7 linked regions of the Homo sapiens genome follow. The protein of the gene in region 1 interacts with the protein of each later gene in a biochemical or structural test. Each region holds a gene or a part of one and is shown in the gene's direction. Other genes may lie near its edges.

Evidence for each region.
Region 2: the proteins of PREX1 (region 1) and ARHGEF16 interact in a test that uses a peptide from one of them, tested with the Homo sapiens proteins (one large-scale study listed by IntAct).
Region 3: the proteins of PREX1 (region 1) and MAP2K2 interact in a test that uses a peptide from one of them, tested with the Homo sapiens proteins (one large-scale study listed by IntAct).
Region 4: the proteins of PREX1 (region 1) and SLCO1C1 interact in a test that uses a peptide from one of them, tested with the Homo sapiens proteins (one large-scale study listed by IntAct).
Region 5: the proteins of PREX1 (region 1) and DGKK interact in a test that uses a peptide from one of them, tested with the Homo sapiens proteins (one large-scale study listed by IntAct).
Region 6: the proteins of PREX1 (region 1) and RASSF6 interact in a test that uses a peptide from one of them, tested with the Homo sapiens proteins (one large-scale study listed by IntAct).
Region 7: the proteins of PREX1 (region 1) and DGKZ interact in a test that uses a peptide from one of them, tested with the Homo sapiens proteins (one large-scale study listed by IntAct).

What each region holds. Positions count from the first base shown.
Region 1 is NC_000020.11:48,629,000-48,632,499, reverse strand, and holds part of PREX1 (phosphatidylinositol 3,4,5-trisphosphate-dependent Rac exchanger 1 protein), read left to right. Parts: coding exon 1-4; intron 5-108; coding exon 109-223; intron 224-1,705; coding exon 1,706-1,772; intron 1,773-2,878; coding exon 2,879-3,051; intron 3,052-3,500.
Region 2 is NC_000001.11:3,453,278-3,457,464, forward strand, and holds the start of ARHGEF16 (rho guanine nucleotide exchange factor 16), read left to right. Parts: upstream 1-1,387; 5' UTR 1,388-1,534; exon of another isoform or gene 1,535-1,551; intron 1,552-4,158; exon of another isoform or gene 4,159-4,187. UniProt on the Homo sapiens protein: Guanyl-nucleotide exchange factor of the RHOG GTPase stimulating the exchange of RHOG-associated GDP for GTP. May play a role in chemotactic cell migration by mediating the activation of RAC1 by EPHA2.
Region 3 is NC_000019.10:4,117,623-4,121,122, reverse strand, and holds part of MAP2K2 (dual specificity mitogen-activated protein kinase kinase 2), read left to right. Parts: intron 1-3,493; coding exon 3,494-3,500. UniProt on the Homo sapiens protein: Catalyzes the concomitant phosphorylation of a threonine and a tyrosine residue in a Thr-Glu-Tyr sequence located in MAP kinases. Activates the ERK1 and ERK2 MAP kinases.
Region 4 is NC_000012.12:20,736,832-20,740,331, forward strand, and holds part of SLCO1C1 (solute carrier organic anion transporter family member 1C1), read left to right. Parts: intron 1-275; coding exon 276-441; intron 442-3,352; coding exon 3,353-3,500. UniProt on the Homo sapiens protein: Mediates the Na(+)-independent high affinity transport of organic anions such as the thyroid hormones L-thyroxine (T4), L-thyroxine sulfate (T4S), and 3,3',5'-triiodo-L-thyronine (reverse T3, rT3) at the plasma membrane.
Region 5 is NC_000023.11:50,364,909-50,367,367, reverse strand, and holds the end of DGKK (diacylglycerol kinase kappa), read left to right. Parts: 3' UTR 1-1,959; downstream 1,960-2,459. UniProt on the Homo sapiens protein: Diacylglycerol kinase that converts diacylglycerol/DAG into phosphatidic acid/phosphatidate/PA and regulates the respective levels of these two bioactive lipids.
Region 6 is NC_000004.12:73,585,937-73,589,436, reverse strand, and holds part of RASSF6 (ras association domain-containing protein 6), read left to right. Parts: intron 1-1,502; coding exon 1,503-1,597; intron 1,598-3,500.
Region 7 is NC_000011.10:46,374,963-46,378,462, forward strand, and holds part of DGKZ (diacylglycerol kinase zeta), read left to right. Parts: coding exon 1-83; intron 84-469; coding exon 470-669; intron 670-888; coding exon 889-989; intron 990-1,103; coding exon 1,104-1,183; intron 1,184-1,365; coding exon 1,366-1,435; intron 1,436-1,439; exon of another isoform or gene 1,440-1,522; intron 1,523-1,561; coding exon 1,562-1,602; intron 1,603-2,110; coding exon 2,111-2,250; intron 2,251-3,235; coding exon 3,236-3,267; intron 3,268-3,494; coding exon 3,495-3,500. UniProt on the Homo sapiens protein: Diacylglycerol kinase that converts diacylglycerol/DAG into phosphatidic acid/phosphatidate/PA and regulates the respective levels of these two bioactive lipids.

The sequences.
Region 1 (3,500 bases):
AAAGGTGAGCTTCAGGCCTGGGGCAGGGAGGACCACGGGGGCCGGGCCAAGGCCACCAAGCACACCGGCTCCCAACCGCCTGCCCGCCCCCGACATCTCCCCTCCCAGTGCTGGAGAACGTGGAGGGGCTGCCTTCTCCAGGCAGCCAGGCCGCGGAGGATTTGCAGCAGGACATCAACGCGCAGTCCCTGGAGAAAGTTCAGCAGTATTACCGCAAACTCAGGTATCCGCCTGGGGTCCCCGTTGGGGGCAGGAGTCAGGAAACCTCCACGTGGAGTGGGCATTAGCATGGAAGGTGCCAGGCGGACCCCCAGCATGGGCAGTGGGCCGCACACCCTTTCTTGAGCACCTTCTGTGTGACAGCACTCTTGCCTGCGTGAGATTCTCAATGGCAGCAGGCCATGGATCCCACTTTACAGAGGAGGCGACTGAGGCCCAGAAAGTGTACACACTTGCCCAAGGTCACACAGCCAGGCAGTGGCTGAGCTTTGAACTGGGGTCTGTTTGGTTTCAAAGTGGGTCTTTCCTACTGAGAGGAGCCGGCTTCATTCTACAGAGGGTGGGAGCTAGGACAGGGGACCTTGGGACTCTTGGGCCTGTGAGTGAGGGGTGCGGCTCCCAGGGTCTTGGCTGCTCAGAAGAGAACCCCAGGGGAGGAGGGGTGAGAGCAGGAGCCAGGTATCACCAGGAGGAACCACAGGTTCTGGGAGGCAGCTTCTAAGTTCTGCAGCTCCCACTCCTACCACCCTCCCCCACAGCCCTTCCTGCGTGTGTCTCACCACCTCCCTCTGTGACAGAGGCAGGCCGAGAATTAAGACCCCAGGGAGATGAGTACGGGTCTGGGCTTCATCATTTGGAAATGAGAGAATGAGGCTTCATTCGTTTGCTCAGAGAAAGCATCCAGCCCAGTTACTGAAAACTGGCATCTGTTTGGATTGATCAGGGCTGTCATCAGTCTGTTCTGCGCCATCTGTGGAATACTCTGAGTCCTGCCTGTGTGATGATTCATTCATCCCTTCATTCACACATGTTGAGGCCTTCTGCGGGCCGGGCACTGTTCCGGGTGCTTGTTTGGGAATGTGCAGTGAGCAAAACAAAGTCCTGTTCTTCATGGAGCATATATTCTAGAGCAGGGGTTGTCAAAATCTGGCCCTCCTTGTCTCCCTGTTTTGTAAATAAAGTTTTATTAGCACACCTGCATTCACTCATTTTCACATCCTCTGTGGCTGCTTTTGTGCTGCAATGGCAGAGCTGAGTGGCCGCGATCGAGACTTTCCAGTGCACAAAGCATAAAATGTTTACCGTTGGGCTCTTCACAGAAGAAGTTCGCTGACCCCTGTTCTGGAGGGGGAGACGAACAGTAAACCAGTAAGCCCAGAGCCATGAGATGCCAAGTGGTGAGAAGTGCTCAGAAGAGAGAAAAAGCAGGACCAGGGCCTGGGGAGCAGAGGGCTGGGGGCTGCTGTGGACGGGCAGGCAGGGAGGGGTGGCATTGGAGGAGTGCTCAGGAGGCCCCTCTTTCCCCCCCGGCTGTTGTAGGAACAGGTGCCTGCGGGTGAGCACAGCCTGCAGGCGCTCTCAGGGATTTCATTCTGAGAGTCGGCAGAGGGCGGAGTCACGGTGGCTGCAGGAGTTGAGACCTGGGTAGGGGCAGGAGGATGGTGGGTGTGGTGGCCCCCGCCTCATTCCCATCTTTCTCTCGCAGGGCATTTTACCTGGAGCGGTCTAACCTGCCCACGGATGCCAGCACCACGGCGGTAAAGATAGACCAGGTATGTCCACGTGCCCTCCTGCTGCAGGGAGCTTGGGCAGGGTGGGGCGCTCAGGAGTCAGGACTCAGCAGACAGGCCCAGGGTTGTGCCCCAGCAGATTCTAGCCCCAAAGCCCTTGAGACCCTGCAGTCTCTCCTCCTCCAGGAAGTCTCCCATGATAGCTTCCTCCCCATTCCCAACTTCCTGGGATGATTTATTTTCGCTGGCAGCCGCCCATCTCTGCCACTCCAATCCGCCTTATTAACCACAGCATTTCTCTGAGGCTGGAGCCTGGACCTCATGACAGATGTAACCTGTATGGTATTCTTTTTGTTTATGTGTTTCAAATTTGCTGTCAACCTTTAGAAATCAAAAGATTTCCCATAAAAACAGAGGCTTCCAGCTTTTCTGGAGGAATGGGAAGATCTGGCTGTTGGGGACCATGTTGCCACATGTCCCCGTTGCTCCGAGCTGGGAGCAGCTCCCTCTGAGGGGCCTCGATAGTTCGGCTCCTTGGGCTCCTTGCCTCTGACCCTCAACACATGTCTTTTGGCCTCCTGGTTTTCTAGGGTCAGGCAGGCCTTGAATGTGCTGATGATTTTGGGGTGCTGTCTTGGGGCTGTGAGCTGGGGGCTCCGGGAGGAGGGTGGGCACAGCCGTTTGGGACTTTCCACTCTGGCTGGCAGAATGTCCCCGCAGCACAGCTCGTTAGTGAACCACCCCTTGCACCTCCACGTGGGGGTCAGGGAATGCTGGGGGCAGAAGGGAAGGCTTTTTCTGGAGAGGGGGCGCTTGTGTTGGTCTTGACAGGCTGGGAGAGGGCACTTTCTTCAGGCTTCACTGGGGACACACCTGGGCAGGTGAAGAGAATTAGGTTGGAAGGTTAGACCTGAAATATATGGTCAACACTGACTGCCAGCTTGTAGGGCAGTGGGGAGCCACAGAGGGTTCTTGAGCAGAGGTTATAGAAGATTGAATTGCATTGTTATCCCCAGAGGGGTGAGCTGGGAGGCAGCTGCAGGAACAGCTGGATTAGAAGGATATGGTGGGGGAGGAGGGCCAGATGGGGGCTGAGGGGCTGTGAGGACCTCCTCCAACTCCCCGGTTATGTGTGGTACCCCCTACAGCTGATCCGCCCCATCAATGCCCTGGATGAGCTCTGCCGCCTCATGAAGTCCTTTGTCCACCCAAAGCCTGGTGCTGCTGGGAGTGTGGGCGCCGGCCTCATCCCCATCTCCTCGGAGCTCTGCTACCGCCTGGGGGCCTGCCAGATGGTCATGTGTGGCACAGGCATGCAGAGGTGAGCTGCTGCCCGCTGAGTCGGGGTGTGGGGAGGGGCTGGCCTAGCTTCTGGTCAGTTTGGGGTCCTGTGGCAAGGAGGCAGGAAGGCTGGGTTCCAATCCTGGTTCTGCCATTGCCTGTAGAGCCTTGGCTCTGTCTGCACCTCAGTTTGTCTGTCTGTGAAACGGAATGGCAGCAGCAGGTGGTCCTAGCAGGGCTGTGGAGCCACCTGCTTCTCTAACGCCGTAGTGAGTGTGTGTGAGAGCTGTGCCCTGTAGTTCCGCCGGAAGCCTCCTTCAACATTAACAATAGCAATGGCTGGTTTATGGGGCCTGCTGACCTCACTGGAGGCTCCCCTGCCTCCTACCTCCATCCTTTGTCCCCAGTGCTCATCCCAGGGAGGAAGAGGTCACCTTCTCCAGAGTGCTTCCTGACCTTCCGTTACAAACTGTGCCCACTCTCCCCACT
Region 2 (4,187 bases), on another chromosome or scaffold:
GCAGTACCCATCATGGACTCAGGAGGGCAGCAGCCACCTGCCTTTCCCAAGAGCTGCCTGGAAGTGGAACCTCCCCACAGGCGGCTCCAGGTGGAGGCTGCAGCCCACAGGGGTCAACTCTTAGCTCCTCCCTCATCCACCCTCCCTCCCAGGGGATGGATGGCCCACGGGACCCATCCCTGAGGCCAGCCTGTGCCCTGCCCAGATGGCACCTGACACCCAGGCAGCCCCAGCCACAGGGCAGACATTGGGGGACTAGTGGGTGGGGCGACCAGAGCAGGAGGGGCAGGGCAGGCCGCCCCTCTACCTATGACACCTGAGAAAATGCCAAGTGACAGCCCCAGAGCCTGTGGTGTCTCCTCAACCCGCAACGGGATCTCACGGCCGCCCAGGCCAGGGAGGCAGGTCCTGGGAGGAGGGTGGTCAGTGCCTCTGGCTGGCACACCGGTGCCCGGCCCACGACCCCAAGGCCTGGGGTCAGTGAGGGGACGCTGGTAGAAGCTGACCCAAAGCCCAGTGTGGATGTTCACATGGAGGCCTTTGGCAACAGGCCTTTCCTGAAAAGGGGATGATGGAGGCAGGTCAGAAGTGGGTCTGAGCCCTGGGACCTCAGGTCACATTCCTGAATGGCCAGGCCCAAGCTTGGGAGGCTTGGCTCAGCCCCCAGCCCCTCCCACAGCACCAGGTGGCCTGATTCCTGAACCCCCAGCTGGGGGGCTGCTGCAGCCTCTGCCCGGGGCCCTCCCTCACTTTCACACGGGTTCCCAGCAGGCGGAGCAAGGAAAGGCCAGGCTCGGAGTCCAGGCTCAGCCTTGTGCACGAGGGCGAGCGCCTTCCTTTCCAGGACTCGGTCCTTCTCTGTGAAATGGGGATGACCGCGACTCAACCACACCAAAAAGGTGGCCAGAGTGCTTTGCGCCCTCTTGGCTGTCTTTGGCCGCCTGGCTTCCAAGAATCCAGAGGGCCGGGCCTTTCTACAGCAAACATCGGTCCCCGCAGGGCTGGTCTCCTTCCCCGAAGGCTTCCTGGAGGAGGCAGTGGAGCGGGGCCTGGAAGGACAGTGACGCAGGAGGGAGCCGAGCCGCTCTGGCCCCACGCCTGGCAGGCGACTCCCGGGCCGGCCTCGAGGGGGCGTGGGCGCGGGGAGGGAAGGCGCAGGCACCGGGCGGCGGCGGCTCGGCGGGAATCGAGAGGCGCGATCCAGTCCGGGCGATCACGTGGGCTCCAGCCGGCCCAGGTGGGGCTGTGACCTGTGACGCAGGCGGCGCCGCCACAGGTGCCCGGGACGCGCCCCGCCCCCTCCCCGGCCCTCCCCGCCCGGGCCCTCGGACCCGGAGCAGCCCCGCCCGCCCAGCGCCCACCTGCGGGGCCGCAGCCGCCGCCCTCCAGCCAGACCGCGCAGGAAGCGGAGGAGGCGCCCCGGGCCGGACCGCGCTGCCGCAGGAGCGAAGCGGCTGCAGGACAGGACAGGACCCGGCGCTGGAAGCTGCACCGCCAGCGCGCCGCCCCTCCGTCCCTCCGCCCCGCGGCGCAGGTGAGCCTGGGGGACAGGTGAGCCGGGGGACAGGTGAGTCGGGGCTCGGGGGAGCCGGGTGGGGGGATTAGCCCGGGGGAGGCGCCGGGAACCCGGGGCGCTTCTCCTCCCCCTCGCTTTTCCCGCAAGCCCCGCCCCGGCAGCCGCAACAACTTCGCGACCCTCCTGGGGCTCCGCCGGGGCGGGAGAGGCGGGGCTCGCGGGCTGAGCCGGATGCGACTTTGGACCCGCCCCCCCACACACACCAGGCAGCCCCCTGCTTGCCCCCGCCCGCTCGCTCGCTGCCCTCTCTTGACCCCGAGTGGCCGCTTCCTCTTCCTAAAGGAAAACTTCCATGCAACCGGAACCTGGGTTCAGACTTGAGCGCCGAGGACTCTGGAAGCCCCAGGGAGTTTGAAAGAGCATGGGGTGGGGGGCGGAACAGAACGACCCTCCCGGGAGCTCTTTGGGGAATCTGACACCCAAACCTGCTTTGGCCCCAAAATTTCAGAAAAGCCCCGAGAAGGAAGAACCCCACACCCAAGACAAACCCAAACCATACGCCCCTCCCCCACCCTTGACCTTGGTGGGCGGTGGCAGGGAGGGACCTGCTTTGTCTCCCCTGAGAAGGGAGATGGGGAGGGGGAGGGGTGCGTCCCACCTACCAGGGAGCCGTGGCCGCTTGTCTTGGCCGCTCAGCCTCTTTCTGCGTCTGTGAAATGGGAACAGTATCCCTTTTGAGATTTGAGCAGGTGGGGGGACTGAGGGAGTGGCAGCGATGGCAGGTCTTGGTGACCTCTGCTTCTGACCTGAATCAAGGCCTGAATCTTCTCTGTGTCCTTGAGGGGAACAGTCTGTGCACCACCTAACATGGGGGCCTAGGGGGTGCGTGTGGGCCTGGCTGGGGGTCCAGCAAGAGGGTCCAGGTGCTGTGCCTGGCTGCAGGTCCTGACCCCTCCGTGGCATAGTTCCCAGGTGTGTGGGTTTCAGGCTCACATCCTGGCTCTTTGTGAACTAAGCAGCTCTTGGGGCCTCGGTTTCCTCATCCGTAAAATGGGACTAGTAGGAGTGTTGAGTTAGAAGATGTTGACCCACAAGTGTGCCAGGCAGACGTGGACCCTGCTGTGCGATGCCCACAGCCAGCAGAGGGGAACAGGGTGAGATGAAAGGTACTGTCCAGAGCAGGAGCCATGGGCTGAAGGTAGGCACTCCTCACCCACCCCAGTCTTGCTGGAAGGGAGGTGTCTTGGGGGCTTCCTGGAAGAAGTAAGTCACCTGGACCAAAGTCACCTGGAGGGTGGGATGGGCCCTCCCTCCACCTGGACACTGGGGAGAAACCCTTGTTGGGGGGCCTCCCTGAGGTCGCTGGCTCTTCGGGGGCCATCTCTGACCCACAGGACCACCCTATGTGGGAAGCACTTTCCACCTACACATGAGGAAACTGAGGCACAGAGGTGAAGCAGTGAGAAGCGGCGTGCCAGGGTCCCCACAGCTCACATGTGACGCGCAGGTCCCCATCCTGAGGATGGCCATCTGTGTTCACGTTGTGATCCAGGCGCAGGCGCTCCCCGCGAGTTTGGGTCTGAGTTTTAGTTTTGGTTTCCAGATGGATCTGGGCTGCTCCTGTCCTTAGCACAGGGGACCATCCGTCTGGAGCAGCGTCCTTATTTCTAGTGACTCCCTGGCTGAGGCCAGAACCCCCACTCCCCCCGGTCCCCATTTGGGGACAGCCATCCAGGTCAGGACAGGGCCTGGCCAGCAGTCCCACCCCCGCAGGCCACATTCCCTCTGCACCTGGTTTCCTTACCTGCCCGGGAAAATACCCACCTTCCAGAAGTTTGGGGAGGGGCAGAAGACAGTGGATGACAGGGCATTCAGAGGGCACTGTCTGTGTGTCTGTCCTACAGCGGGTGAACGGGTGGCAGGAGACCTGTCACCCACACGGGCACCTGTCAGAGGCAGGCTCTGATTCCCACCCTTTGGGGGAACCCCGTGAGTGGCAGCAGAGCCAGGGACAGCAGCTGGGTTTATGGGATGTCTCATTCAGAGCCGGAGCTGGGGAGTGACTGGAATGCACTTTGGGCTGAACCAGCTATGTCCAGGTGGGAGGGCCAGGTGCACTTCCCCGCCCCCACCGCGCAGGGTGGCTCTCTGCTTAGCTGCCTAGGATTTCCCTACCGCAGCCCTAGGGACCTTGATCCAGATAACAGGTCTCTCCAGCAGCCTTGCCAACCAGTAGCCAGGACTCCTGACTACCAGCAGTGTCCCCAGACGTTGGCAAATGTGCCCTGGGGGCCAAAACTGCCCCAGTGAAGGCCGCAGAGCCAAATCCCTGGCCACCTTGCAAACGGAGCTGGCTGATGTGTGCTGCATGATTTGCAAAAGCAAGTCCTCCCCCCGATTATGTGACTGAGTCCGAAGTTTGACGGGCAGAATTACCGGAGTACAAGGGCATCATTGTAGCTTGAGTTTGCCTTCACTGAGGTTGGATGGACAGGTGCTAGAGAGGCCGCGCCCCACTGGGCCGAGTGGGGTCAGCCGGACCTAGAGGCCAGGGTAGGAGGGACAGAAATGCCTGAGGGTGGGACCACATGAAGCTGGAGGCCTGTGCAACATCCTAACCGGAGGGGCAGCAAACTTGGGGCAATTGGGTCCTGGTGGCCGTGACAGCAGC
Region 3 (3,500 bases), on another chromosome or scaffold:
GTGGGGTCATGCCAGGGTGATCTCTGCACTCCCGTTCTGCAGGCCGAGGCAGGGCAGGGCGATCCCCGGGGCCCTTGGCTGGGGTCCGGGTGCCGTGCCTGCGGTGTGACCCCTCAAGAACCAGGTGTCAGGGACTGTGGCATGTCTGGTGGCCTCTCCCGCTTGGGGGTCGGCCTTCTGTGACCCAGATGAAGACTCTTGATGCCAATGTGTGCAAGTCAACACGGGCACAGCCAGACACGGGGACCCGTTCCTCATTCTCTGCACAGAACTCGCCCTTCACATTTCTCTTCCGTGTGGGGTTTGATTCCCATCTCTTGAAGGATTCCCCCAGGAGAGGAAGCTGGCTGTAGGGACGCCAAGGTTTTGTTTTGTTTTGTTTAATAACCACAGTTGGGTTGCCAGTAAATTTAAGATGGATTAGTCAGCTGACTCCAGAATGCATTTTCAATGTTTTGAGCAGTACTTGAGACCTTCCAAGTCTGCCATCAGAAGTGTTCATTCATGGCTGGGTGTGGTGGCTCACGCCTGTAATCCCAGCCCTTTGGGAGGCCAAGGTGGGTGGATTACTTGAGGCCCAGAGTTCAAGACCAACCTGGCCAACATGGCAAAACCCCGTCTCTATTAAAAATGCCAAAAAAATTAGCTGAGCGCGGTGATGCACACCTGTAATCCCAGCTACTCAGGAGGCTGAGGCAGGAGAATCGCTTGGACCCAGGAGGCAGAGGTTGCAGTGAGCTGAGATCGTGCCAGTGCACTCCAGCCTGGGCGACAGAGCAAGACTGTCTCAAAAAAAATAAATATTCATTTATTCATTGATGTTATTCATTCATTCATTCATGTTCCCCTCCTTACCTTCTGTCCCACTCCCAGGGTCTCGCCATTTCTGCTTCTTCTGGGTCCTTGTTCAGCAGCTCCTCAGTGAGCACCTACTAGGGCCCTGTTTCCCCTCATGGGGGACACTAAGATGAGCAGGGGTTGTCCTGACCTCAGGCAGGTGTTGTTACCTCGGGCAGGTTCCCCCACCCCTGTGAGTCTGTTCCCTCCTGCCTGGGCCTCCGGGGACGATGGTGAGAATGGAATGAGATGGTGTTTGTCCAGCCCAGGAAGCGGTGCCCAGGCCCCTGCCTTCCAGCGAGCTCTTTGCAGCACCAGCTCCAGCGCCATCGCCTCGGTTCTGGCCTGTGTGCCCCGTGGCTTACGCCACTTCCAGCTGTAGGCGAACAGTGGTCGAACTTTGGGATTGGAAATTTCCAGATGGAAGGAGCAGTCCACGCCTTCATTCCCTGCTTCAGTCCCCTCTCTGGCTGTCCACCTTGGCTTTAGCTCCTTCCTGAATTGGGACCTCTGGAGGTGGCCTGTTCTTCCAGAGAGCCATTTAAAGCTGCACTGCCTGGTTGAGTAGCCCCTGGCTACAGGCAACACATAAAACAAGAATTGCCCAAACCCACGAGAGCATAGGCGCAATAATGCCATTGTAGATTTCAAAGGCTTAAGACGGAAACAGTGTGAAACATTCATTCATTTTTCATACTGGTTGTACGTTGAAAATGATAACATTTTTGATGGGTTAAATCAAATGTGTTATTAAAATTAATTTCAGCCAGGTGCAGTGGCTTATGTCTGTAATCCCAGCACTTTGGGAGGCCAAGGTGGGCAGGTGGCTTGAACCCAGGAATTCAAGAGCAGCCTGACCAACATGGCGAAACCTTGTCTCTACTAAAAATACAAAAATTAGCTGGGCGTGGTGGCGGGTGCTTGTAATTCCAGCTACTTCGGAGGCTGAGGCAGGAGAATTGCTTGAACCCGTGAGGTGGAGGTTGCAGTGAGCCAAGATCACACCACTGTACTCCAGCCTGGGCGACAGAATGAGACTTTGTCTCAGAAAATAATAATAATAATAAAAATTAATTAATTAAAAAGAGCCAGACATGATGGCTCACACCTGTGATCCTAGCTACTAGGAAGGCTGAGGTGGGAGGATCACTTGAGGACAGGAGTTGGAGGCTGCAGTGAGCTGTAATCGTGCCGCTGCACCCCAGCTTGGGAGGTAGAGCAGGACCCTGTCTCTAAATAAATGAAGTGAGTTCACCTGTTCTTTTTAAACATGGGTACTAGAAGATTTTAATTTGTGCGCATGGTTTACATTCCATTGCTTGTGCACAGCAATGGGTTCCTGTGTGCATTGCGCTTAGTTGTCTGTTACTCCAGGATCTGGTTCTGAGTCAAGGCATTTGTGAAAATAGCTTACTGTCGAAATTTCCTCTGAAGATTCCTTGAATCACCCAATAAAGTGCAATGTACTTGCTTGTTTAAATTGTTAGAAATTTTTTATTGTGTAGAAACAAGGTCTTGCTCTGTCACCCAGGCTGGAGTACATTGTCACGATCATGGCTCACTGCAGTCTCGACCTCCTGGGCTCAGCCTCCTGAGTAACTAGAACTACAGGCATGAGCCACTGTGCTCGGCTATAGGTCTCACTTTGTTGCCCAGGCTGGTCATGCTTATTTTTTGTTTTTTTTGTTTTTTGGTTTGTTTTGTTTTGAGACAGAGCCTCCCTCTGCTGCCCAGGCTGGAGTGCAGTGGCAAGATCTCAGTTCACTGCAATCTCCCCCTCCCGGGTTCAAGCAGTTCTCGTGTCTCAGCCTCCCAAGTAGCTGGGACTGCAAACGTGCACCACCGTGCCTACCTGATGCAGCTTTTGTGCTGAGCCTTCTGCCCTCTACTCTTGGTTCTCATTCTGTGCTCTGAGGCTGCTCAGAACGCTTGTTCCTCTATCTCCTGCAAAGACAGACATCTTGGCCCGGGCTCCGTTCACCCGATCCCAGCTTCCTCGTCTCCTCCCGACATGGTCCGGAGCTCGTGCGTTAGGAAGGAGGTCTCCCGGCCGCGTGCAATGGCTCACGCCTATAATCCCAGCACTTTGAGAGGCTGAGGCAGGCGGATCACTCAATGTCAGGAGTTGGAGACCAGCCTGACCAACATGGCGAAACCCTGTCTCTACTGAAAATACAAAAATTAGCCGGGCATGGTGGCGGGAGCCTGTAATCTCAGCTACTTGGGAGGCTGAGGCAGGAGAATCTCTTGAACCCGGGAGGCCAAGGTTGCAGGGAGCCGAGATCGCGCCACTGCATTCCAGCCTGAGCAACAGAGGGAGACTCCGTCTCAAAAAAAAAAGAAAAAGAAAAGAAAAAGACGGAGGCTTCCTGGGTCCTTTGAGCTGCAGCTTATCCTTGAGGTCCTGAGGTCTGCTAGACTTGTTGAGACAGGATCAAGGCAGCGTCCTCAGTTCCCGGGGAGCCGCCCTGGATTCTGGTCATTGGTGTGTCTATGGGGGTACACAGCATGGATCCTTTCCTTCTACACCATGAACCCCTCAAGTGCAGGAATCCAGTCTGTGTCCTCCTGGGGGCCGATGCACCACGGCCACATAGCAAACGGCCAGATGGAGTCTCCCTAGGTAGCTAACCCCTACCCTGGGGGGTCTCTGCAGGGCAAAC
Region 4 (3,500 bases), on another chromosome or scaffold:
GAAGATCCTAGAGGCTGTAGACTGAAAGCTATAAGCTAAGAACTGGACATCATGTGAATTTGTAAACCTCTAAAGATAACTTTCAAGAGAAAGCTGTTTATTAGTAAACTCACATTTCATGACCAGAAGCTGCCATTTCTGATGACAACTGTGTTTCTAAAAGGCAAATTTTGTTCATAGTATCATTTATATCACTCAAGAACATTGATTTTTTGAAAATATTCGGGTGCTACCTGCTAAGAGGTAATATTTTATATTGTTATATTTCTTTTCAGAACCAAACCTGTCTCTTATCATGAACGAGCTCTCTTTTCAGATTGCAACTCAAGATGCAAATGTTCAGAGACAAAATGGGAACCCATGTGCGGTGAAAATGGAATCACATATGTATCAGCTTGTCTTGCTGGTTGTCAAACCTCCAACAGGAGTGGAAAAAATATTGTAAGAAATCACCTCTCAAGTATATGGCGATGGTCCTGTTACAATATAAACAACAAAACTCTATGGGGGCTCACAGCAGACCACTACTAGTAGGAGGCTTGCCTCTTACCTCTGCCTGGTCCTTTTTTGTAGAAAAAGAAAATGTTATAACCATTCCTAGTGGTACTGGAGTTGCTGAAAAAATTAGGGTGAGAATTAGAGTCATCAAATAGGGTGGAAGAGATTTTGTAATTATGTAGTCTATTTCTCTCATTTTGCTTATAAGAAGTGTTAGCCCTGAATTAGAATGTCTGTCGTATGATCATCATAATAAGATATGCTTTCAGATCCATGTCCCCTGGCCCTAAGATCCGTGGTCCTTGGAGGTTTTAGGGAATGAACAAATAGAGGCCAGTATTAGGAGGCTTAGCTCCAGAGATTCTAGACCTTGGGGTCAGGGATCTGATAATGAGGAGGTTGATGGTTCTAGGACAACTTTGGAAAATCAAGCCAATTTGTATAATAATGAAAGGGCAGGTGGGCTGGAATGGAGGGTTTCCATAGGGCAGAAGAGGGAGATGAGGTAGGAAATATAGGTAGGAATCTATTTTAGTCAGTCCAGGCTGCTATAACAAATATACCATAGAATGGGTGGCTTAAACAACAAACATTTATTTCTCATAGTTCTGGATGATGGGAAGTCCAAGATCAAGGTGCCAGCAGAACTGGTTCCTAGTGAGGACCCACTTTCTGGTTTGCAGATGACCATCTTCACCTTTTATCCTCACATGGCAGAGAGCAGACAGGGAGAGACAGGTCTCCTGTCTCTTCTTATAAGGGCACTAAAATCACATTCATGAGGGCTACACCCTCATGAACTAATTACCTCCTAAATGCTTTACTCCAAATACCATCACATTGAAGGTTAGGATTTCAACATATGAATTTTGGGAAAATATTCAATCCTTAACAGAAAGCAATTGTGAAGGATGTAAAGTACTTCAATCATTAACAGATTCACCCTTCTCAGCACACCTTTCCATTCCTGTCCCAAACAGACTCTTCCTTATCCTTGCTCTCTGAGACTGCTTTCTATTTGTGACTGATTAAATTTGCCTTTATTTGACAATCCTAGAGGGCAGAAAATTAGACCACCCATGTATCTCATTTATTTATATATCCTTATCAACTGGATATGAATACTTAGGCTGTATATCCACAGATATACAGTTAAGTTTGTTAATTTACTCTGTTCATTGTATTATTATTTTGACTTATTTACAGCAGAAAGGATTGGTTTCTAGCAACAATGAATAAGACTACCTACTCATCTGAAACATGTTTTCATGCTTCTCTTTTTTTCTTTTCTTTGCTTTCTTCCTTTGTTATTTTTCTTTCAGCTACTGTTATTTTTGCTCACAGCTGCATGAAGGTTTTTTTGTAATGAGAGCTACCATTTATAAAAGACATTACAAGGAAAGGTTAAAGATTGGTGTTAAAAGAACAAAATTACATTTAAATCTCATGGTCCTGAAATAATTTGCATTATTTTCAGTATTTTCTTCATGTGAGAACTGAGGCACTGAGATACAAAGGACTTGCTTAACTCATTTATCTAGTGAGCGACCAGAATTAAGATTCAAAGGTTTCAACTTGACATTACAAAAAATCTATATTGCCACTCTTTCTAGAAAAGTAAATGCCAGCTTTATTTATGGTCTAAAAACTCACAAACTCTTTTGTGATTAAAAATGATAACATTATATATATGCATTCATAAATAAAATTTACAGAAATAAACTATTGAGGGGTTATACAAATTGTCTCTCTTCAGTCAAAATTTAGTTGAGTTTTATGCACCAGAATTATTTTTTTCTCATAGCCACTGTAAATTATGTCATATCCTCAAATTGTTCCCATTTACTTAACTAAGTTTTATCAAATGCCTAAAATGAGAGTCTATTCCATTCCCCAGTTGCATAATAACAAAGCAGCAGTTTCTGCTTTCATGGAGGTTACATTCTGTTGGGAAAGTATGTTTTAAAAATAAGTAAATACAGGATATCCTGATAGGTAGTAAGAAGCACTGTAAAAAAAAGACATACATTAGAATAAGAAGATGGAGAGATGGGAGTTGTTTTTTTTTGTTTTTTTTTTTAAATGGATAGTCATAGAAGGTCTCTATTAAAACCTCTAAACGGAGAACTAAAGTATGGACGCCAGCTGTGTAATCACCGAAGAGAAGAGCTGCCCGGGCAGAGAAAATAGCAGGGCCGTGAGGCATGGATGAACTTGCCAGGTTTGAGGGGATGTTTGGAAAGGGCAAAATGGGGCCTTTGCAAGGGTCATGTGTGTGGCTTACACAGAAGAAGAGAGGGAAGATCACTGAATGGTGAGATTAGAGTGGCATCCAGGTGCTACATGATGGAGAAAGTGTAAACTGTTATAAGGATGTGGGGTTTCATGCAAGTATGATGAGAAACCACTGGCAGGTTGAGGGTAGTGATGCAGTCTGACTGCCATGTTTAAAGGTTCACTTTACTTACTGGGTGGAAAGCAGATACTAGCTAGATAAGATTGGAAACAAGTTGCGCATAAAGGGAGCATTGTAACAATCTAGGCAAGAAATCATGGTTACTTAGCATTGGAAGTGGTAGCGAAGGAGGTAAGGTATGGTTAGATTAGGCAGGATTTGCTGGGAGATTGTTGTACAGGATTAGTAGTTTGTAGATAGTCATCTGCTCTTTAGATAATGAAATGTTGTATCTATATAGATTTTGCTTTGCTCAATATACTGTAATACAAAAAAATAAAAGAATATTTCCTCATTGTTTACATAATGCATGGCTACGGTAAACATTTTTAACATAACTGTCTTTAACTTTATTTAAATGTTACTGAAATAATTGGACTTTTCCCTATCGTGTTACAGATATTTTACAACTGCACTTGTGTGGGAATTGCAGCTTCTAAATCCGGAAATTCCTCAGGCATAGTGGGAAGATGTCAGAAAGACAATGGATGTCCCCAAATGTTTCTGTATTTCCTTGTAATTTCAGTCATCACATCCTATACTTTAT
Region 5 (2,459 bases), on another chromosome or scaffold:
AAATGCCTTCTCCCAGTCAGGGCAAATCTAATCAAACCCCAATGCCCAGAGAGGTTCTCTCTGGTCAGCCTTGCATCTTCACCCCACCCTTGACTCATACCTTTAGTTAACTGTCCCTTCCCACTTATCAAGAGAAAACTGGCCTCTCCCTACTTCTCAGACAAACTTAGCGTGCTCAATTACCTGATTCAGTCCAATGGCTGGTTCATTGAGGTGCACAATTCAGATTCCAAGCACTGGTTCTCAACTCTGGAACTCCACCAGCCTAACCCACTTAAACCAGCCACCTGTGCTCCACCTCCGCAGGGGTGAGGAGAAAAATATTAACAAGGGGATAGTCCCCAAATGTCTGATTGCTGTGCCAAACTAAGTCCTAGCTCTACAACTAGAGAAGAAAGTCAATGGAAAAAGATGACAGAAAACATTTAAAACTTATTTAAGCATCAGAATGTGTTAGCTTGTTGTACATATTTGAGTAGTGAGTGTGCTGTTGTTGTGTCTTTGACTTTCTCTGTTATTAGTCTTTCTTCCCAGGAGGAGGTATTAGATGAAATCAGCAAGCTCACTATTGCAGCCTGACTTGGCTCCTCTATGGCTGCATGCATTGACACCTGCACACACACTCACAGAGTGGGAACCAAGTTGCATTTTCTTCAGAAGAGCTTTTTCCGAAGGGGAAAATGTCCAAATGAGCAAATTTAGGACTACAGAAGGAAGTCCTGGGAGAAGATAGCTTTATCTTGGCAGTGACTAAGCAGGGCTGTGTCTTATAATTATTTTTATCACTGATGATAGTAAACTGTAATAAGACTCCATCTCTTGTGCTTACTTTGCTGCAATAATTAGGTCTTTGTGCACAGTGATGCTGCTGTTGCTCTGTTGTGCCATGTGGATTCCCTTTCACCTACCCTGTCCTCCCACTCTGAGTCAGAATGATATTGACTGAAACCACTAGTATTTGGGGCTAGAGTCAGCTCATGGAGCACAGTTGATAGATGACAAGGCCCAGGAGCAGGTGTGGCTTGCTCAATCCCTCAGTTACCTCCTAAATTGCTAAGTTACCAGTAGTTTCCCAAAAAGGAAGATAGCTTGCCAAGCACCTGTTCTTGCATATGCTCACTTGGAAACAAAGCAAGAAGTGATGCCTCAAGGGAGTTGTCTTAGCTCTGGGAGTGTGAGCTCCTTTAAGGACTTTGTTAACCACTTGCAGTAATTAATACAATTGCTTGGGTGGTGGGACCAAACACCAAATATCCATCTCAATTATGTTCAGACATCATTAAGACCCAAAGCTCTAGGGTTTGGTTGTATCTTTGGTAGCACTTTCTGACGAATTGGTTGGGTAGGCAATTCCTGGCCAGAAGAATAGTGGAGAAGAAAAAGCCGATACATTTGAACTGCCACCAACTGCTTCTGGTGTCAATACTATAGGAGGTAAACAGTTATGGGTCCCCTTCTCCAGAAAGGCCCTGTGCTGTGTCCATAAGAGCAGGTTAAGAATAAGAAAGAGATTTTTTACCTTAATAAAACTGGGCCAGAAGAAACAGTCAGGGTCAACGTCATCTTCCCTCAGGACACAAATGGAAGAATTTTTCTTTCACGAGAGGTGGAAAATAATACCAAAGCAACCAAACCCATTAGCACCATTCCATCCTATATGAGACCTTGCTTGGCTATATGATTTGTGGAATTGCATTTGTCTATTTGTCAGTGAATCTGTAACCCATTGTTGTTTTCTGCTCTGTGTTTTTTATTTCCTCAGAGGCCCCTGCAAATAAGCAGCAGGGCCAGGGGCTGGTTGGGGGAGGAAGCTGGGGTATTTACATGGTAACAGGAAAAAGCAGAAAAAAAAGATCCACAAAGTGTGCCTATTCCTCTCCCCCCGCCAAATGGAACACCAGTCCTCAATGTTAATAAAGTATTGCTTCTTTAAATATTTTAATAAATGGATAAACATAATCAATGCCGTGCCTCATCATTTACCTCAGCATAAAGGGAGTTGAATGGTGGTGGAAATGGGGGGCAGGTGGGCTTGGGTGGCCATCCAAGCTCTAAACAAGCCACATGCAGGTCACGATGGCAGGTGAGGGAGGACAGCAACAGCGCAAACCAAGAATCTCCATCAGGGATGATCATGATACTAAAGGGGTTGCCAAGAAGAACTCTAAAACCTAGCTGCGACTCTGGATGATCCTGTGGGGAAATACATGCCACTGTAATTGCTCCAGGAGCTAATTCTCTGCAGGATACAAATCTCAGTGGAATGCATTAGTTACTGGGGAGGCAAAGTGGGATAGAGTGTAGTCCAGACTGTTAAATAAATGCATAAGGCACCTTGAAATCTGACAATACAATCTATTCCCCCCAATGCATACATCATACACTCCTCTCCTCTCCAGAGGGGTTTGAGGTGGGAAGCCATATTCTGTTCAAATGCAAAATCAGTTCGGCTGAGCATT
Region 6 (3,500 bases), on another chromosome or scaffold:
TTGCATTTTTAGTTTCTGTTTTTCATTGGTATTGACTTTTCCATTCCTAACCCCCCTTCTACGATAATTATGTCTGCCACTTTCTGATTATTAAGCTGCTATAGATTTGGGGAAATGGGTAATTTTATCTGCCATAAGACTAATTAGATTCTGAGTCAGGACCTGGTAGTTTTCCTTTGAGTTAAAGTTATTACCTGTAGTTGGGCTTTATGACATTTGTTTTGATTGGCTGTATTCTGAATAGTACAGCTTGCTGGAAAATTAACAAATATATTAGGATTACCTTCTCTACATCATAAGGCTATTGTGAGACTCAAATGATATAGTAGCCATAAAACACGCTTCAAAAGAATTCAAAAGTAAAGAGGATAAGGGATGACTTTCTTCATATTCACTACCATTAGTATTAATAAATATTTTTTGTTGCCACCAATGAAATTCGGGCAGAGTCAATGCCATAAATTCCCTATAAGTGAATATATTTTAGTCATAAGAAAAACAGACATTACTGAAGAGATTCTTAGATAATAGCAACCATTTGCCTAGAGAGATCCAGGAACACCTTGGGTCCCTAATGGTTCCTGGCCCATCAGGAATGAAATAGATACAGATGCTGGTGATGATGATGATGATGATGATGATGATGATGATGACAATGGAGATGAGGATAATTATAATTATTGTTAATCTATATTGAATGCTTACTATTTTCAGGGCACTGATTCAAGAATTTTATACAAATTAACTCTTTTAATCCTCAAAACAACCCTATCCTACCTCATGCTATTATCATTTTTATTTTACAGATGAGGACACAGGCACAGAGGGGATAAGAAACTTGTTTAAGACCAGATAAATAAAATAAAATTGAGTTTTGACCTGCCGTAAAAATAAACATTTGTCAGGTTTCATGTATTCTGAGCACTAGAATGCACTTAAAATTGCTAGTTTCTTTATGAAATCATAATTTTCTGGCAAAATTCTCATACATTTTCCTCCTTCGTAAACTACATTCTTCATGGTAGTCAAGGGCCTTAAACGATAGGCACTATATTTTATTATTTTAGAGCCACTCTACCTAACAATGTTTTGAATGCAAAAGGTACAATACATATTGACAGAATGTATAAAGAACACTTTTATACCCAAGCTCCCCTAAGAGTATTGTGAAATATCTTTATAACAATTGATCATCTTGGTTTCTACTAATTCAATTTGGACATATGTTTTACAGAATCTATATAACTTGTGTTTCAGTATGTAACTGAATTATTACGTCAAAAAGATATGCTCTATAAAAGTACAGGAAGCATTTAAAACATATATTGACCACTTTGGTATGAATATAATTTTAATAATATCATAAAATTGTTATAACTTTGGACAATATATCCACCTACAGAGGCCCACAGTATTACTATATTAATATTGTAAATCTGGAAACCATCATAGGCTTCAATATAAATGGAACTGATGTACTTACAAGATTTATTACTTCTCAGAATGACACGCTGGGGGGAATTTGACGATCTCTATCGTATTAGTGAGCTGGACAGGACCCAGATTCCTATGTCTGAAAAAAGGAATTCCCAGGAAGGTCAGTATCAAAATCTTATTGATTGGGAGACTTAATTTTTAATTAGTGTAAAGTATGACTCCATATGTTTCTCTGAAATCTAACCTTTTTCATACTACTACACAATAAACTCTTGTTTTATATGTATATATATTTTTAAATATCTTAGGAGCATAGTAACTTAAGTCACTATAGTGCTTGTATGATGTTTAAGAACCTTACTTTGGTATATAAAAATATAATTCTTAAAAAAATTATATTATGTCACTTAGATTTATTAGAATAGGGAGAGCTAATAGTTTTAATAAAGTTTGTATTCATAAAATTGTTAAATATCTTCCCCAAAGATTAGAGTCATTTATTATTCCCAATAGCTTTATATGTTAGGCCAAGCCCATCAGACCTAATTCTGTATCTTTTTAGAAGTTGAACGTTTTAGTTAGTTAATAGATATGTCAATAACATTACTTCTCAGAAAGACACAGATATGCTGGAGTCAATTTTATATTTGATAGAGTTATTTCAGAGATCTTTTTAAAAGAGAAATATACTTAAGGATCAAATGGATCCATACTGAACTTGGCAAACCAATGGGAAATGCCAGCTCCAGGGATGTGTGACATTAGTAGTTATAATCATAATGGTGATGATGTGAGAGTAATAATAGTGATATTGATAGCTGTAATCTGATGAGACTCTGGTAAGTATCAGGCATAATATTTTGTACTTTATATGAATTTTTTCATGTAATTCTCATAAACACATAAGATTCAAAGAGTAGTGGATGCTGATGACTGAAGCTAGAATGAGGGGTGGTGGACAGGGTTCATGTGCCTGAAATGGGGCTGTGATTTACGAAGTCAGTTCAGTGTGAACAAAGGTATCCCACTAGCATTAACTTCATAAGCCTACCAGCAACTTGCAATGTTTGTTCTCTTTTTTTTTTTTTCAAATCATTCTCAATTCTGCCTCGTCTGCTATTCCACAGGAACCCAGATCCTGTGACAAACATGATGTTCCTTCCAGGGTTCCCTTTTCTCTTTATGCCATGGGATCTTTACATCTTGTTAAATATCGGCCCTTCCAATTATCTTTTAGAAATATATATGAAACCCAAGGAAATCCCAGTATCTTGGCATCAAAGACATCATAAAAATATATTTGTATTTAAACAGCAGTGCTAGAGAAGGAAGAAATATCTCATGCCTATTTGATAATGTTCTAATTACAGTAGAAAATTTTTTAAAATCCTAAAGTAAAATAAAACACAAATGCCACCACATGGTCTTATTCTTACATATGAATATGCATAGGAGAGGAAATTGAAAAAGGTACTATCAATTGTATACAAGCAGAAAGGGGGGCAGAAGGCAGGTTTGAATCTTCTGCATCTTAGGCTAGTAACACATTGTAGCTCAATTCAATTCCATTTAAACACCTTCTGCCTACTCAATAGATACTAGAGTTGTTCAACGCTACACTATAATTTTATACTCTAAAATCTGCTATAGAAATTGTAATAATTCAGTAACCAAATTTTGACTAATCAATTATGAATCATTGTTAAATATACATGACTCAATGAGAAGAAATAATAGGATAGTGGACAACTAAGTGAAAAAGTCATTCATATCATACATCTGGAATGTTCTAAAAAGAACATAATGTGATATATTACAAATAGTAGGACTAGTCCAAAGCATACTATTCCTTTTGCTTTTATAAAAGATGGGAACAAAATCTTTCAATGCTCCACATACCATATAAATAGCTTCTCAAAGAGCTTTCTGTAGTTTTATAGGAAAACTAAGGCCCAGTGTTTATTTTTTAGGAAAAGCTCCAAAGAACTTGGGCCAACATATAATGGGGTGGGGGGAGGGGGGAGGGATAGCATTAGGAGATATACCTAATGCTAAATGACGAG
Region 7 (3,500 bases), on another chromosome or scaffold:
ACCCTGGGGAGCACCACGACTTTGAGCCCCAGCGGCATGACGACGGCTACCTCGAGGTCATTGGCTTCACCATGACGTCGTTGGTGAGTGGGCCCTGGGCCCATGGTGCCTGGGAGCACAGCCCAAAGGTGGAAGGGGTCACCCATACTCACCTCCATGGGCCACGGCGGCCTAGTTCACCCTCACCTCCCTTCTTTGTCTCATTCCTCTGGCTTGAGAGCGGCACCTACCCCCTCTCCTCACTATGCCTCGGGATACCTTCACTCCCCACTCTGACTGGAGCGTCACCCTCATTGCCTCTGTCCCTTCCCTTTCCTACCTGGGGTCTCAGCCTCCCCTCTGCCCTCTGGCCAGGGGTCACTCTCACCTTTGTTCTCTGGCTAGAGTTTCTGCTTCGGAAGGAGCAGAGTCTGGGACCCCCCTGCCCCCAGCCCTGGTGCCATCTGACCCAAGCTTCCTGTGCCCACAGGCCGCGCTGCAGGTGGGCGGACACGGCGAGCGGCTGACGCAGTGTCGCGAGGTGGTGCTCACCACATCCAAGGCCATCCCGGTGCAGGTGGATGGCGAGCCCTGCAAGCTTGCAGCCTCACGCATCCGCATCGCCCTGCGCAACCAGGCCACCATGGTGCAGAAGGCCAAGCGGCGGAGCGCCGCCCCCCTGCACAGCGAGTACGTCCCACCCTGCCACGTGCCCTGGGTGCCAAGGCCAGACCCTGCCCTCTCTGGGCCTTGATTTCCCCATCTGTAAAAGGGGCTGACTGTCCCTCTGCCCCAGGGGTGTTGGGAGTGGAGCGGGACCTTCTCTCGGCAAGTGGTTTGGTGCCAGGCCGAGGGTGGCACCAAGGCAGGGCCCTTGCTGAGCCCCCGCTTGCCGGCCCTGCCCGACAGCCAGCAGCCGGTGCCAGAGCAGTTGCGCATCCAGGTGAGTCGCGTCAGCATGCACGACTATGAGGCCCTGCACTACGACAAGGAGCAGCTCAAGGAGGCCTGTGAGTGCGGTGGGGCGGCCTGGCAGGGTGGCCAGGAGGGGCTGAAGCAGCCGGGGCCCCCTTGGGCAGGGCTGTGGGGTGCAGCCAGCTGCTGACAGGTGCTCTGTTCTCCAGCTGTGCCGCTGGGCACTGTGGTGGTCCCAGGAGACAGTGACCTAGAGCTCTGCCGTGCCCACATTGAGAGACTCCAGCAGGTAAGGGGTGGGGGCTTCCCCAGGTGCCCACCGAGAGGGTGGTGGGAAGTGAGGCCAGGCCTCTTCCTCCCGCAGCCAGCTCGCCCTGCGGAGCCTCCTCTGTGCTGGTTCCCCCTACTCCAAGTTCCCTTCCCTCCCTGGCCCCCACTCTATCCCAGCCTGGCCTTTGCTTCTCTCAACAGGAGCCCGATGGTGCTGGAGCCAAGTCCCCGACATGCCAGAAACTGTCCCCCAAGTGGTGCTTCCTGGACGGTGAGTCTACTCCCAGGGTGCCAAGCTGTTTCGTGTTCCCTCCCTAGGGGATCCCAGGTAGGGGCAGCAGAGGACCTGGGCCTGGACATGGCACTCCCTGATCCTCAGCTGCCCTCTCTCCCACAGCCACCACTGCCAGCCGCTTCTACAGGATCGACCGAGCCCAGGTGAGCGATTGCAGGCCTGCTCCAGCCACAGCTGCTTCCGGGCCCCAGGGTCGCCTCTCCTGGGACGCCTTCCCTGTTAGCTCCCCCGATGGGCTCACCTCTGTCCTCATGCCTCTGAGAGCTTTTACTATTGCCTGTGTGCATGGACAGCGTGCGGCCCTGCCCTCCACACTGGAGAGTATAGGGCGGTGCCAGCCAGAAAGGCAGTGGGGTACCTACCAAAGGCTTGCTGGGTGGGTAGGAGGGCCTGGAAGCCCAGAGCCATCCAGGGAGACACAGAAGCAAAGGCATTCTGGTCAGGCGCCAGCTCACCTGGTAAAGTCTGGGCAGTCGGAGGAGGTGTCAGGAATGGGAAGGAGTGGGAGAGGGACAGGCAGGGCCCCTTGCCTGGCCACCTCCTTTCAGTGTTTGTGCTCATGGCAGAGGCTTCTCCAGGTCTACCAGCCTTGCTGCCCCTCGGCCCCCACCGTCAGGTGCCCTGACCTCCCGCCCTGACCTCCCCCCACAGGAGCACCTCAACTATGTGACTGAGATCGCACAGGATGAGATTTATATCCTGGACCCTGAGCTGCTGGGGGCATCGGCCCGGCCTGACCTCCCAACCCCCACTTCCCCTCTCCCCACCTCACCCTGCTCACCCACGCCCCGGTGAGTCCTGGTGTCCCGTCCCTCCAGCCCCTGGCTTTCAGCCCCACCTGTAAGCCGATGACTTCTGAATCCCTGCTTCTAGCCCCTCCACCAGTTAACTAAATGGTGTCAACCTGAACCTGGCCAAAGCCCACCTGACGGCCTTCAGCCCTGTGGTTCTGTGGGGAAGCGGCCTCACGTCCACCCTGGTTCCCTCCCTGACTTCTCCCTCCTCTGGACCTCATCCTTCAGCCAGTCCTGGCAGCCCCCGGACCCACCACCTGAGCACTCCTCCCCACCCCTACTGCCACCAGCCCTTCCCGGCTGCCACGCCCTGGCCCCCAGCTCTTATATCCCTGTGGCCATTCGTGCCCTCGAACCCCCATCTCCATACCACGGTCAACTAAAAATGCAGAGCATACCAGGCCACTCCCCAACCTAGAAGCTTCTTTCTCAGCAGCCCTTTGGACGTGGATTCTCCCCAGGCCCCCCGTCATTGCACTGGGCTCCCAGCCCCCTCCCTGAGTTCACCTCCATGGTCCTGCCCCACTCTCTTCTCTTGGTTCTTTGAGGCATCAGGTGTTTGCCACCACTGGACTTCTGTCATCGCTGCCTCCAACTCTTCCCCCATCTTTCCGGAGCTCCCCCACCCCCATCCCCTTCGAATCTCAGCTTGGCTGTTTCCTCCTTGGAGAGATCACTCCCAGGACCCCCTCTGCAGGGGTGCCACATCACCTGTTCTGAATTCTTAAGAGCACCCCTGCTCTCAGAACTCCTTATTTATTTGACTTGTTTGTATCCCTGAACTAGAATGTAAGCTCCATGAGGGCAAGGCCTTCCTCTGTCTCGTTTCCCTGCTGTATCCCCAGTGCCTGGAATAGTGCTTGGTGTGTAGCAGGCACTCAATAAACTGTGGAAAGGATGAAGATGCCCCCAGTTGGGGTTGGGGAGGGCGACCAGCTGGCCTGTGCCGTAGCCGGTCACAGCACATCATGCTCTGTTGCAGGTCACTGCAAGGGGATGCTGCACCCCCTCAAGGTGAGGCCTCTCCCTCTGGGGCCCCTCCTTTCTGCCTGGTTGGGGGCAGGAGGCTCAGTGGGGTGGGGATAGGGCCCAGACACAGCCTTACACAAACACAGCCTTTGAGCTTCACGCACCAACGGAGCCCTGGGCACACATGCCTGGCCGGCACAGTCCTGTCCACTGAGGCACCAACCCAAGCCCAGGCCTCCGACTGCAGAGTAACAGGCAGGTATTCCGTGCAGGTGAAG